Linked DNA regions of Homo sapiens. The protein of the gene in region 3 interacts with the protein of the main gene of each other region in a pairwise test. Each region holds a gene or a part of one and is shown on either strand. Other genes may lie near its edges. The genes, in order: TTLL10, C17orf67 and CADPS.

What was found.
Region 1: the proteins of CADPS (region 3) and TTLL10 interact in a two-hybrid assay, tested with the Homo sapiens proteins (one large-scale study listed by BioGRID).
Region 2: the proteins of CADPS (region 3) and C17orf67 interact in a two-hybrid assay, tested with the Homo sapiens proteins (one large-scale study listed by BioGRID).

What each region holds. Positions count from the first base shown.
Region 1 is NC_000001.11:1,190,790-1,194,519, reverse strand, and holds part of TTLL10 (inactive polyglycylase TTLL10), read right to left. Parts: intron 1-3,730. UniProt on the Homo sapiens protein: Inactive polyglycylase.
Region 2 is NC_000017.11:56,809,864-56,813,593, forward strand, and holds part of C17orf67 (uncharacterized protein C17orf67 precursor), read right to left. Parts: intron 1-3,730.
Region 3 is NC_000003.12:62,487,417-62,490,916, forward strand, and holds part of CADPS (calcium-dependent secretion activator 1), read right to left. Parts: intron 1-3,500.

The DNA.
Region 1 (3,730 bases), on a different chromosome or scaffold from region 3:
CGCCCTACCGTCCTTCAGGCTGAAATGAAAAGACACTAGACAGTAACTGGAACTCACAGGAGGAAATAAAGAGCCCCAGAAAAGGTCATTGTGTAATTAAATATAAGAGACAGCATACATGTATTTTTTTGTATGTGATTGTTTTGTCCTAAAAGACAACTGTATACAACAATAATTATGAATCCATGTTGATGGACACAAATATACTGAGCTGTAATTTGTGACAACAGCATGAGAGGGGTGGGGCTGTGTAGGAGGAGTGTTTTTGTATACTTTTAGGAGCAGTGTGTTTTTGTATGCTTTTGAAATTAACTTGGTATTAATAAAAAACTGAATTGTTTATTTTAAAACATTTTTTATTTTAGAAACAGGGTCTTGTTCTGTCACCTAGGCTGGGGTAATGTGGTTTGATTGTGGCTCACTGCAGCCTTGACCTCCTGGGCTCAAGTGATCCTCCCATCTCAGCCCCCTAAATAGCTAGGAGGACTACAGGTGCACACTCCCATGCTGAGCTAATTTTGTTTTTTAGAGATGGGGTCTCACTATGTTGCCCAGGCTGCTTTCAAATGCCTGGCCTCATATGATCTTCTTGCCTCAGCCTCCCAAAGCACTGGGATTACAGGCATAAGCCACCACACTCACCCTAATTGTAGTAAATTAAGATACAATATTAATGGTAATCCTCAGGACAACCACTAAAATAACTCAAAAACATATAGTAAAATAAATGACAAGGTAATTAAAATGCTACACTAAGCCAGGCGTGGTGGCTCACGCCTGTAATCCCAGCACCCTGGGAAGCTGAGGCGGGTAGATCACCTGAGGTCAGCAGTTTGAGATCAGCCTGGCCAACATAGTGAAACCCCGTCTCTACTAAAAATACAAAAAATTAGCCGGGTGTGGTGGCATGCGCCTGTAATCCCAGCTACTAGGGAGGCTGAGGCAGGAGAATCGCTTGAATCCGGGAGGCGGGGGCTGCAGTGAGCCGAGATCACGCCACTGCACTCCAGCCTGGGCAACAAGAGCGAAACTCCGTTTCAAAAAAAAAAAGCTACACTAGAAAATATCTCTCTAAAACAATAGGAGGCAGTAATGGAGAAACTGAGGAACAAAAAAAGACAGACATAGAAAACAAATAACAAAATAGCATATGTAAATCCTACCTTATCAGTAATTATTATTATTATTATTTTTTGAGACGGAGTCTCGCTCTGTCACCCAGGCTGGAGTGCAATGGCGCAATCTTGGCTCACTGCAAGCTCCGCCTCCTGGGTTCACGCCATTCTCCTGCCTCAGCCTCCCGAGCAGCTGGGACTACAGTTGCTCACCACCACGCCTGGCTAATGTTTTGTATTTTTAGTAGAGACGGGGTTTCACCGTGTTAGCCAGGATGGTCTCAATCCCTGACCTTGTGATCCACCTGCCTTGGCCTCCCAAAGGGCTGGCATTACAGGCGTGAGCCACCGTGCCCGGCCCTTTATCAGTAATTATATTAAATGTAAGTGAATTAAACTTTCCAATTAATAGACATTGACGGAGTTTCTTAAAAAAACATGATATACCATCTACAAAAGATACTTTAGTTTCAGAGACAAAAATAGGTGGAAAGTAAAGGGATGGAAAAAGATGTACCACACACGGTAACCAAAGTAGAACTGGAGTGTCTACACTCATACCAACTGGAGTGTCTACACTCATACCAACTGGAGTGTCTACACTCATACCAACTGGAGTGTCTACACTGATATGAACAACTGGAGTGTCTACACTCATACCAACTGGAGTGTCTACACTGATATCAACTGGAGTGTCTACACTCATACCAACTGGAGTGTTTACACTGATACGAACTGGAGTGTCTACACTCATACCAACTGGAGTGTCTACACTCATACCAACTGGAGTGTCTACACTGATATCAATTGGAGTGTCTACACTGATATCAACTGGATTGTCTACACTCATACCAACTGGAGTGTCTACACTCATACCAACTGGAGTGTCTACACTGATATCAACTGGAGTGTCTACACTGATACGAACTGGAGTGTCTACACTCATACCAACTGGAGTGTCTACACTCATACCAACTGGAGTGTCTACATTCATATCAACTGGAGTGTCTACACTTATACCAACTGGAGTGTCTACACTCATATCACAGAAAATAGACTTTACACAAAAATTATTACTGCAGATTAAAGGAAAATTTTTATAACGATAAACCAAGAAGATCTAATAATCATAAACATACACACACCCAACAACAGAGCCTCGAAATATACAAAAAACTGACAGATCTGAAGGGAGAAGTAGACAACTGAATATCCCGCTTTCAATACAGAGACAGAAGATTAACGAGTAAATAGAAGACTCGAACAACATTATAAACCAAACAGACCTAACAGACATGTTGGGAGCAGGCCCCCCCCCAAAATCTGGCCATAAACTGGCCCCAAGACTGGCCATAAACAAATCTCTGCAGCACTGTGACATGTTCACAATGGCCCTAACGCCCACGCTGGGAGGTTGTGGGTTGACGGGAATGAGGGCAAGGAACACCTGGCCCGCCCAGGGCGGAAAACCGCTGAAAGGCGTTCTTAAGCCACAAACAATAGCAGGAGCGATCTGTGTCTTAAGGGCGTGTTCCTGATGCAGTTAACTAGCCCAACCTATTCCTTTAATTTGGCCCATCCCTTCGTTTCCCGTAAGGGATACTTTTAGTTAACTGAATATCTATAGAAACAATGCTATGACTGGTTTGCTGTTACTAAATATGTGGGTAAATCTCTGTTCAGGGCTGTCAGCTCTGAAGGTTGTGAGGCCCCTGATTTCCCACTTCACACCTCTGTATTTCTCTGTGTGTGTCTTTAATTCCTCTAGCGCCGCCGGGTTAGGGTCTCCCCGACCGAGCTGGTCTCGGCACAGACATCTACAGAACACTACACCCAAAAACAGGATACACCTCCTTCTCCAGTGCACATGGATATTCTCCAGGATAGACCATATGCTGGGACATAAACAAGTTTCAAGTGTTTTTTGTTTTTGTTTTTTAATGATCCACTTAATGAATAGTAAGTTTGTTGTTTTTTTAAAGATGGGGTTTTGCTGTGTTGCCCAGGCTGGACTCAAACTCCTGGGCTTAAGCAATGTTTCCATCTCAGCCTCCTGAGTAGCTGGAATTACAGGTATGTGCCAACACACCAGCTCCAATAATTTTTCAATAATTTTTAAAGGGTTGAAATTATAAAGTATGTTCTCTGACACAATGGAATGAAATTAGAAGTCAATAACAGAAGGAAAATTGGAAAAATCACAAATATGTGGAAATTAAATAACAGGCCCTTAAGCAACCAATGGGTCAAAGAAAAGCTTACAAAGGAAATTTAAAATACTTTGCAGCTGAGCATCATGGCTCACGCCTATAATCCCAGCACTTTGGCAGGCGGATCACCTGAGGTCAGGAGTTCAAGACCAGCCTGGCCAACATGGTGAAACCCCCATCTCTACTAATAATACAAACAAAATTAGCCAGGCGTGGTGGCAGGTGCCTGTAATCCCAGCTACTCGGGAGGCTGAGGCAGGAGAATCGCTTGAACCCGGGAGGCAGAGGCTGCAGTGAGCTGAGATTGCGCCATTACACTCCAGCCTAGGTGACAAGAGCGAAACTCCATCTCAAATAAAATAAAAAATAAAAATAAAAATACTTTGAGACAAATGAAAATGAAGA
Region 2 (3,730 bases), on a different chromosome or scaffold from region 3:
TGCACCTTCACACACCTCTCACACACACCCCTTACACACACCCTTACACACACCCTCACACACCCCTCACACATACTCCTCACACATACTCCTCACTCACCTCACACACAATCCTTGCACAGACCCTTCACACACACACCCCAGACATCCCTCATACACCCTCACACATGCATCCCTCACACACACCCCTCACACACCCCTCACACTTCTGACACACACCCTCACACACCCCTCACACTTCTGACACACACCCTCACACTCCTTGCACAGACCCCTCACGCACACCCCTCACACCCCCACCTCACACACACTCCTTGAACACACCCTTCACACACACACTCTCACACACACCATCACACCCCTCACATACATCCTCACACACATGCATCGCTCTCCCACACTCCTCATGCACCCTCACACACCTTCACATACTCCTCACACACATACCCCTCATACAATTCTCACATTCGAATACACACACCCTCACACACACACCCCTCACACATCCCTCACACACACAAACCCCTCACATGCACAAACCCCTCACACACACCCCTCACACACACCCTCATACATACCCTCATACACACACCCCTCACACACATTCACACACACATACACACATACACAATACTGGCAGCCAAATTCACAGCATGGTGCATCCATCCCACCCTCTTCCCAAGCAAAGGGACATCTGTGCGCAGCTGTTCTTGGCCTACACTCAGAAACAGGGAGGGTGAGGAGGTCTTGGCAAAAGGCAAAGAGCCAGAAGGGCTGGCTCCCAGGAGGCAAAGGCCTTAGCCTCTGAACTCCCTCCTTCCCAGGCTATGAAGATGTGGGCCCGTATGGCAGCTCTAATGCCAGCCTCTGGCCTCCCCTGGCCAGAGGTCCAGGCTTATCGGCTCCTCACCACCCAAGGACAAACCTGAGGCCACTGCCTCTTATGCTCCAACTGGGAGTGCAGGGCCAGGATCATTTTGACAGTCACAGTTAAATGCAGTAAATTACCTCTTTTTACATGCCACTGACTGGCATTATTAATTTTGCTTTCAGTAAATCCATAAAAGAAGAAGTCAACAAGGAGACCCAAGAGGCGTGAGTGGGTCAAATGGTAAGTCGAGGATGTGGAGTACTCCCAGCCGCAGGGCCAGCATGAGGTGAGGAGGCCTGTGGTTTCTAGGGATACCCCTCCAGGGGCCTCAGAATAAACTGCCTGACTCCTCGCTTGGGTTGGTATCCTGCTGCCTCTGGCTCTTCTGTCACATTGCAGACTGGCACCAGGAAACCTGTGTCAGCCCCAAGGTTCTATCCAGAGCCCTACAATATGAGACCTGGAATTAGACATTCTGGAATCTAGGCCAGATTCCAGCCAAACTCTGCATTTTATAGATGAAAAAACTAGGCTTCCAAAAGAGGAAGTGACTTACCCAAAGTCCACAACTAGTTAGCGGCAGAATATGGACTGGAAATGCACTGGGTGGAATATTCTTCCTGCCTCATCCCTACCCCCTGCCCTGCCTGAGAACTCCTGGTCATCCTTCAAGCCACAGCTGGGTGGGCACCTCCTCTGGGAAGCCTTCCCAGCCTCCCCTTTCCTTCCAGTTGGAGCTCGAGACTCTCTTCTTGCAGAGCCGCAGTCCATTGTACCAGATAACCTCGTTAGTGAGCCCAAATCAGGCTGGGGCTCGAGACTCTCTTCTTGCAGAGCCGCAGTCCATTGTACCAGATAACCTCGTTAGTGAGCCCAAATCAGGCTGGGGCACTCTGGCTCCACCTCCACACAATGGGCACCTTGAGTAAGGAAGAATGTCTGGTTTATCTTTCATCCTCAGTCCCTGGTGCTTAGTAGGGCATGGTCAATATAAAATCTAATTAAGTGCACATCTTGATCAGCACGCACCACTTGACCCTCTCACTCTCTCTTTTTGTCTAAACAACTAAGATACTCTCCATACCACCCAGTTCAACATTTAACAGCTTTCTAAATGCTTTTATGTTCCCAACTAGACCACAGGAGCTGGTACACACGTGGCTGATTTCTCCCAGATGGCCTAGCCCAGTGGTTCTCAGCCTCGGCTGCAGGTTGGCATCACTGGGGCTTTGGCCCCATCCCCCATACCCAGGTCCCACCCCAGGCCACCCCTCTGGGAGTGGGACCCAGGCATCGGAATTTAAATTCCCCAGGTGGTTCCAGAATGTAACCAAAGTTAAGAAACACATTTCTAGAAAAAATACGATACCAGAAACTATTTGTTAATTCAACCAATTCTGTGTGTGTTCAAGTGAGTGCAATTATAGAGAGAGACAGAGAGAGACACACACAGCGTGACAGAGAGTAAACAAGAAAAAGTTTACTTGGCAATGTGTAGACTTGGTTCCTCTCCTTTGGCACTACTGACATTTTGGGCCAGAGGGTGGTGGAGGCTGCCCTGTGCCCTGTGTAGGGTGTTTAGCAGCATCCCTGGTCTGTACCCACTGGGTGCCAAAAGCAATGCCCCACACAGGTGTAACCACCAAAAATGTCTTCAGATATTGTCAAATGTCCCTGGGGATGAGGGGGCATAATCACCTATGGATGAGAACTACTGGTGTAGACTAGCCACCCAATAATTGACTGCATGTTTGTTTCACATTTCAATTGTAAAACATATGACCACTTTTCCAAACTGGACTGAATGCCTGAGGATTCTGGACATTGGATGAAGTGTCTCTGAGAGGGACATGGAGGATGGGATGGTGGCTCAGCAATAGGTTCTGAGGCAAGAAGGAGTTACATGGAAACTAATCAGGTAGGTTCGAGGCAGTTAAGAGGAGCAGGTGGTGGTCAAGCCTATAAAAGATGAGCAAAACAAACCAGAAAAAGCCAGATATTCAGTAAAATTGCAAAGTTGGAAGCAAGCAGAGGGCTGTCAAGGATTAAGGGAGGTGATGACCACAAGTGGGAAAAAGCAAACAGAGGAGAAGCTTTCAGAAGTTTTTGAGCAGGGGAAGGACCACACAAAACAGGGTTTTAGGGCCAGAGTCTAGCCTGGCAACAACAGTTGCAACAACGGGCTGCAGCAATTCAAACCCACCTGTTCACCCACATCTACAATGCCTCAGTTAGGACAAAGACTGTTATTCCACAGACAGAGTTCAAAAGAGCCAGGTGCAGATGCTGGCACAGAAAATGTCAGGGGGCAGATGTGGGAGTCATTAGAGCTGCCTCTCGAGCACCTTGAGCAGGAGCCACTGCTTTGAGGACTCTTCAACCAGCTCCCCCAGCCCCTGCCGGGTCCCTGAGGAAGAGCTGCAGAATGGCCGCTCCAGGCATCATGCCAAAAGCACAGGGGGCCAGCCAGAGCCCCCACCCCCAACCCGCCAGCCGCCAACAGGATCCCTCCCTCCAGGCATCCTCCTCCCCATCACAGTTGTGCACATGCTGCCCTTCCTTCACCCCAGCCCCTCCTATGCCTCCCCGCCTTGCTCTGCCACCCCCACTCTCTTGGCTTCTCTATCTCTCTGCATTCCTTCTCAGCCCTTTCAGGGTTCCTCTTCCCCTGCCCACCTCTGAGTGTTGGTGATCCCAGACTTCAATCATGGGCCCCTTCTCTCATTGTCTCAAACTCTCTAACACCCAGATCTGTACTCCCCAACTTGAAAAATCCTTCAGTTGTTCTCTACTAGATACAAGATAAAACCCAAGATACCTCTTATTCTACAAAAAAAAAAAAATTAAAAGCCACATCTA
Region 3 (3,500 bases):
CCAACTGTGAGTGGTGACCCTACTACATGTCCTGATGGAAACCCATGAGAGGGCCATGGGCTCCAGATTTTATTGACAACTTGGGACTGTCTTTGAGAAGCTGACTATCTTTAGCTATGGTTAGAAGCAAAGAGATGACATTGTCCACCAATTCATAGAGATTCTAACCATGACTGTGTCTGGCTTAACGGAAACAGAGATGTAGCTTCCCTTTTCTCTTTTCGAAGAGATGGAAGACTGTCTTTCTAGGGAAAGGCTGCCATAGGACTCAGCCATTTTACCCTTTCCGTCAAATAACTTCAATTATTTTTGTTGTTGTTGTTTTTGTTGTTCATCTTAAATAACCTTAATTGTATCAAGCCTAAATGATGATATCTATTTTCTTTTACAGGGCCATATTTTGAAATAAGAAAATCTGAAGAATAAAGGATATTTTTCATTCTCTTTTTAGCAAACTCAATACATTGGTAGCATTTTCTTGTCAGATTGCTATTTTTCTTCAGCATTTTGCATGCTAATTATTTTGAACATTACATTGCATTTCATTACAATGCATTTCTCATTTTACTTATAACGAGGTGCTTATAAATTTTGAAAAGAAGAAGAACAGAACTACTTGAGGATAACAATTGTTTGAAAGAAAGGCTGTGTGTGTGTATGTATGTATTGGAAGATTCTGTGGCAAAAATGGAAAAGACTGAGCAAACTAAATCTATTTACCTAAGTTAGTTTCTTGTTTTGGGGTGAGCTTGATGAGAAGTATGCCAAAAAGATCATTCTTCACTTGGAAAAAAAATCTAAGAAGAGAAATGAATCTGCTTCTTCATCAACCCACCAATAAGTAGTCAGATGGAAGTTCACACTTTATTTCTATTCACGTTGTAGGAAACATGGAGAGAGTCACTCCTCTTAGCACATAACATGTCTCCAAGCTCTTTTTTACACTCCATTTTATTCCATTCTGCAAAGCTGCCCCGTGGCATCCACACTCTGTTTAAAAATCGGCTGATACAGTGTGTGTGGTAGCTTGTATTTTAGTTAGCACTGTTTTTATTATTTATTTATTTATTTATTTATTTATTATTATTATTTTTTAATAGGGACTCACTCTGTCACCCCAGGCTGGAGTACAGTGGCAGGATCATGGCTCACTGTAACCTTGAACTCCTGGGCTCAAGCAATCCTCCCACCTCAGCCTCCTGAGTAGTTTGGACTACATGCTGTGCCACCATGCCTGGCTACTTTTTTTATTTTGTAGAGATGGAGTCTGGTTATGTTGCCCAGACTGGTCTTGAACTCCTGGCCTCAGGTGATCCTCTCGCCTTGGCCCCCCAAAGTGTTGGGATTACAAGTGTGAACAACCACACCCAGCCCTTAGTTGGCACTTTTAAAGATCTCCACAGACTCTGAAAGGCATATACTATTTAGTATGAATTGAACAAACCACAATCATATTCACTAACAGCATAATTTTAGATAGCAAAAAGCTACTAAAAAACACACACGTATCTGCATAATTCTCAGGTTATTATTCGCAACTATTATTCCTTTATTCACAATTTGCAGACCTTTAAATTGCCCATGCAAGAGTTCAAATTTTTTTTTAATTGGTAAAAATATTCCCAAGAAAACATCCCTAGACTAAGATTTCCAGGTATGAAGATGATTTTTGAGTCTATCTTTATTTCTGATGGTATTAAGAATATTTAATGCCCCCAAAGAAGTAGCAGTCATGTGTTAAACTTTTATTATTTTTTTTTTTGAGACGGCATCTCGGTCTGTCACCCAGGCTGGAGTGCAGTGGAGCGATCTCGGCTCACTGCAAGCTCCACCTCCTGGGTTCACACCATTCTCCTGCCTCAGCCTCCCGAGTAGCTGGGACTACAGGTGCCCACCACCACGCCCAGCTAATTTTTTGTATTTTTAGTAGAGACGGGGTTTCACCGTGTTAGCCAGGATGTTCTCGATCCCCTGACCTTGTGATCCACCCGCCTCGGCCTCCCAAAGTGCTGGGATTACTGGCGTGAGCCGCCGCACCCGGCCGTGTTTGACTTTTAAGAAATTTAACAGATTATAAAATGACTTAGTGACATTATCACGAAGTTCCATGACAATTCTCAGACACTGGACAGGCACATTTTTAAAACTTCAGTTTTGCAGGGGAGCAAACAAGTTCATAGAGGTTTGAACCCTTGACTTCTGGCTAGTAAATGGGCACTAAATCTAGGGCTCTTCAAGGAATAGTGAAGGATACCAATTATTCTCTTCCATGTGTGTTGGTAGTAGTAGTCTCCGTATTTAAGTGCAAGTAAGTAAATGTTATTTCAAGACCATTGTTATTTTAAAACGTAAATATTACTCATTTTAACCTTTTCCTCTTAATAGCTATTCTCCAGCACAACTGTCTTCATTGTATTGAACATTGAAAAAAAATAGAGGCTCTCAATAATTTACCATCAAGGGATCCAGTTCTACCCTCATGAGTGAAAAGTCAGTAGGGCCATATTAAGAGACTGTTATAAACTGGAGAATAACAAACTAAAATTTAAATTTCTTGGTATTTGCAAAGGAGGAGCTACTGGTTATTAACCTCCCTGCAATAGGGAAACTCCTCTTGTGGCTCAGATGTGGAAGGGGGGCAGAAAAGCCTATTTTGCATTAATTTATCAGTGAGAGCCTTATACAGTATAACATTAGAGGAGGGTCTCAGTTCAGAAAACTGCTTAAAAATAGGCTGCAAGTCAAGGCTTCCAAACTGAGGAAAGGCCTCATGAATATTTGTTCTGGAGTTCCTAAAATGTGCTTGTAACATCCCTCTACTTTGCTCCATACTGTTTGCTGCATCCCAAAGATGTAAAATACTAGCATGAACGAAATGATTTCCTTAAAAAAAGAAAGAAAGAAAGAAAGAAAGAAACTAACAAGGCAAATCCAGCAGTAGGCTTTACTGGAGCTTTTCAAACCATCAAACCATAACCATCAAACTCTCCATATAGGAGTCTCTATTTTTTCAGAAAGGGGAGTCTGAGACTGACCCTCTGGAGCCTCAAGTCAAGCCCTCTTCCCATTTGGGGAATGGAGATGGCACCAAGCCTGCCAAACATTTTCAAATAAGACCTAAAATTTGCCAAACATTTGTGGAAATTGACAAACTTGCAACCCACAAGATTTCCCATAATTTATCCTGCAGGGTATATGTCCCATTTTAAAAAAAGCACACGGTTGTCAAATACATTTAGGAAAATCCGGGTTAAACAGAGTTACACAAAATTCTAGGTCAGTGGGGTAGGTATTGTTTCCTAAACATACTTGGCCATAAAGGTTTTTTTTAAAAAGGTGCATCTAAAAGGCCTAGACCAGGCAATGGCAAACTATGGACCTGTTTTGTTAACAAAGTTTCATTGGAACACAGCTACACTCGTTCATTTACATACTGTCTATGACTGCTTTCATGCTACAATGACAGAGTTGAGTTGTGACAGAGATTATGTGGCTCCAAA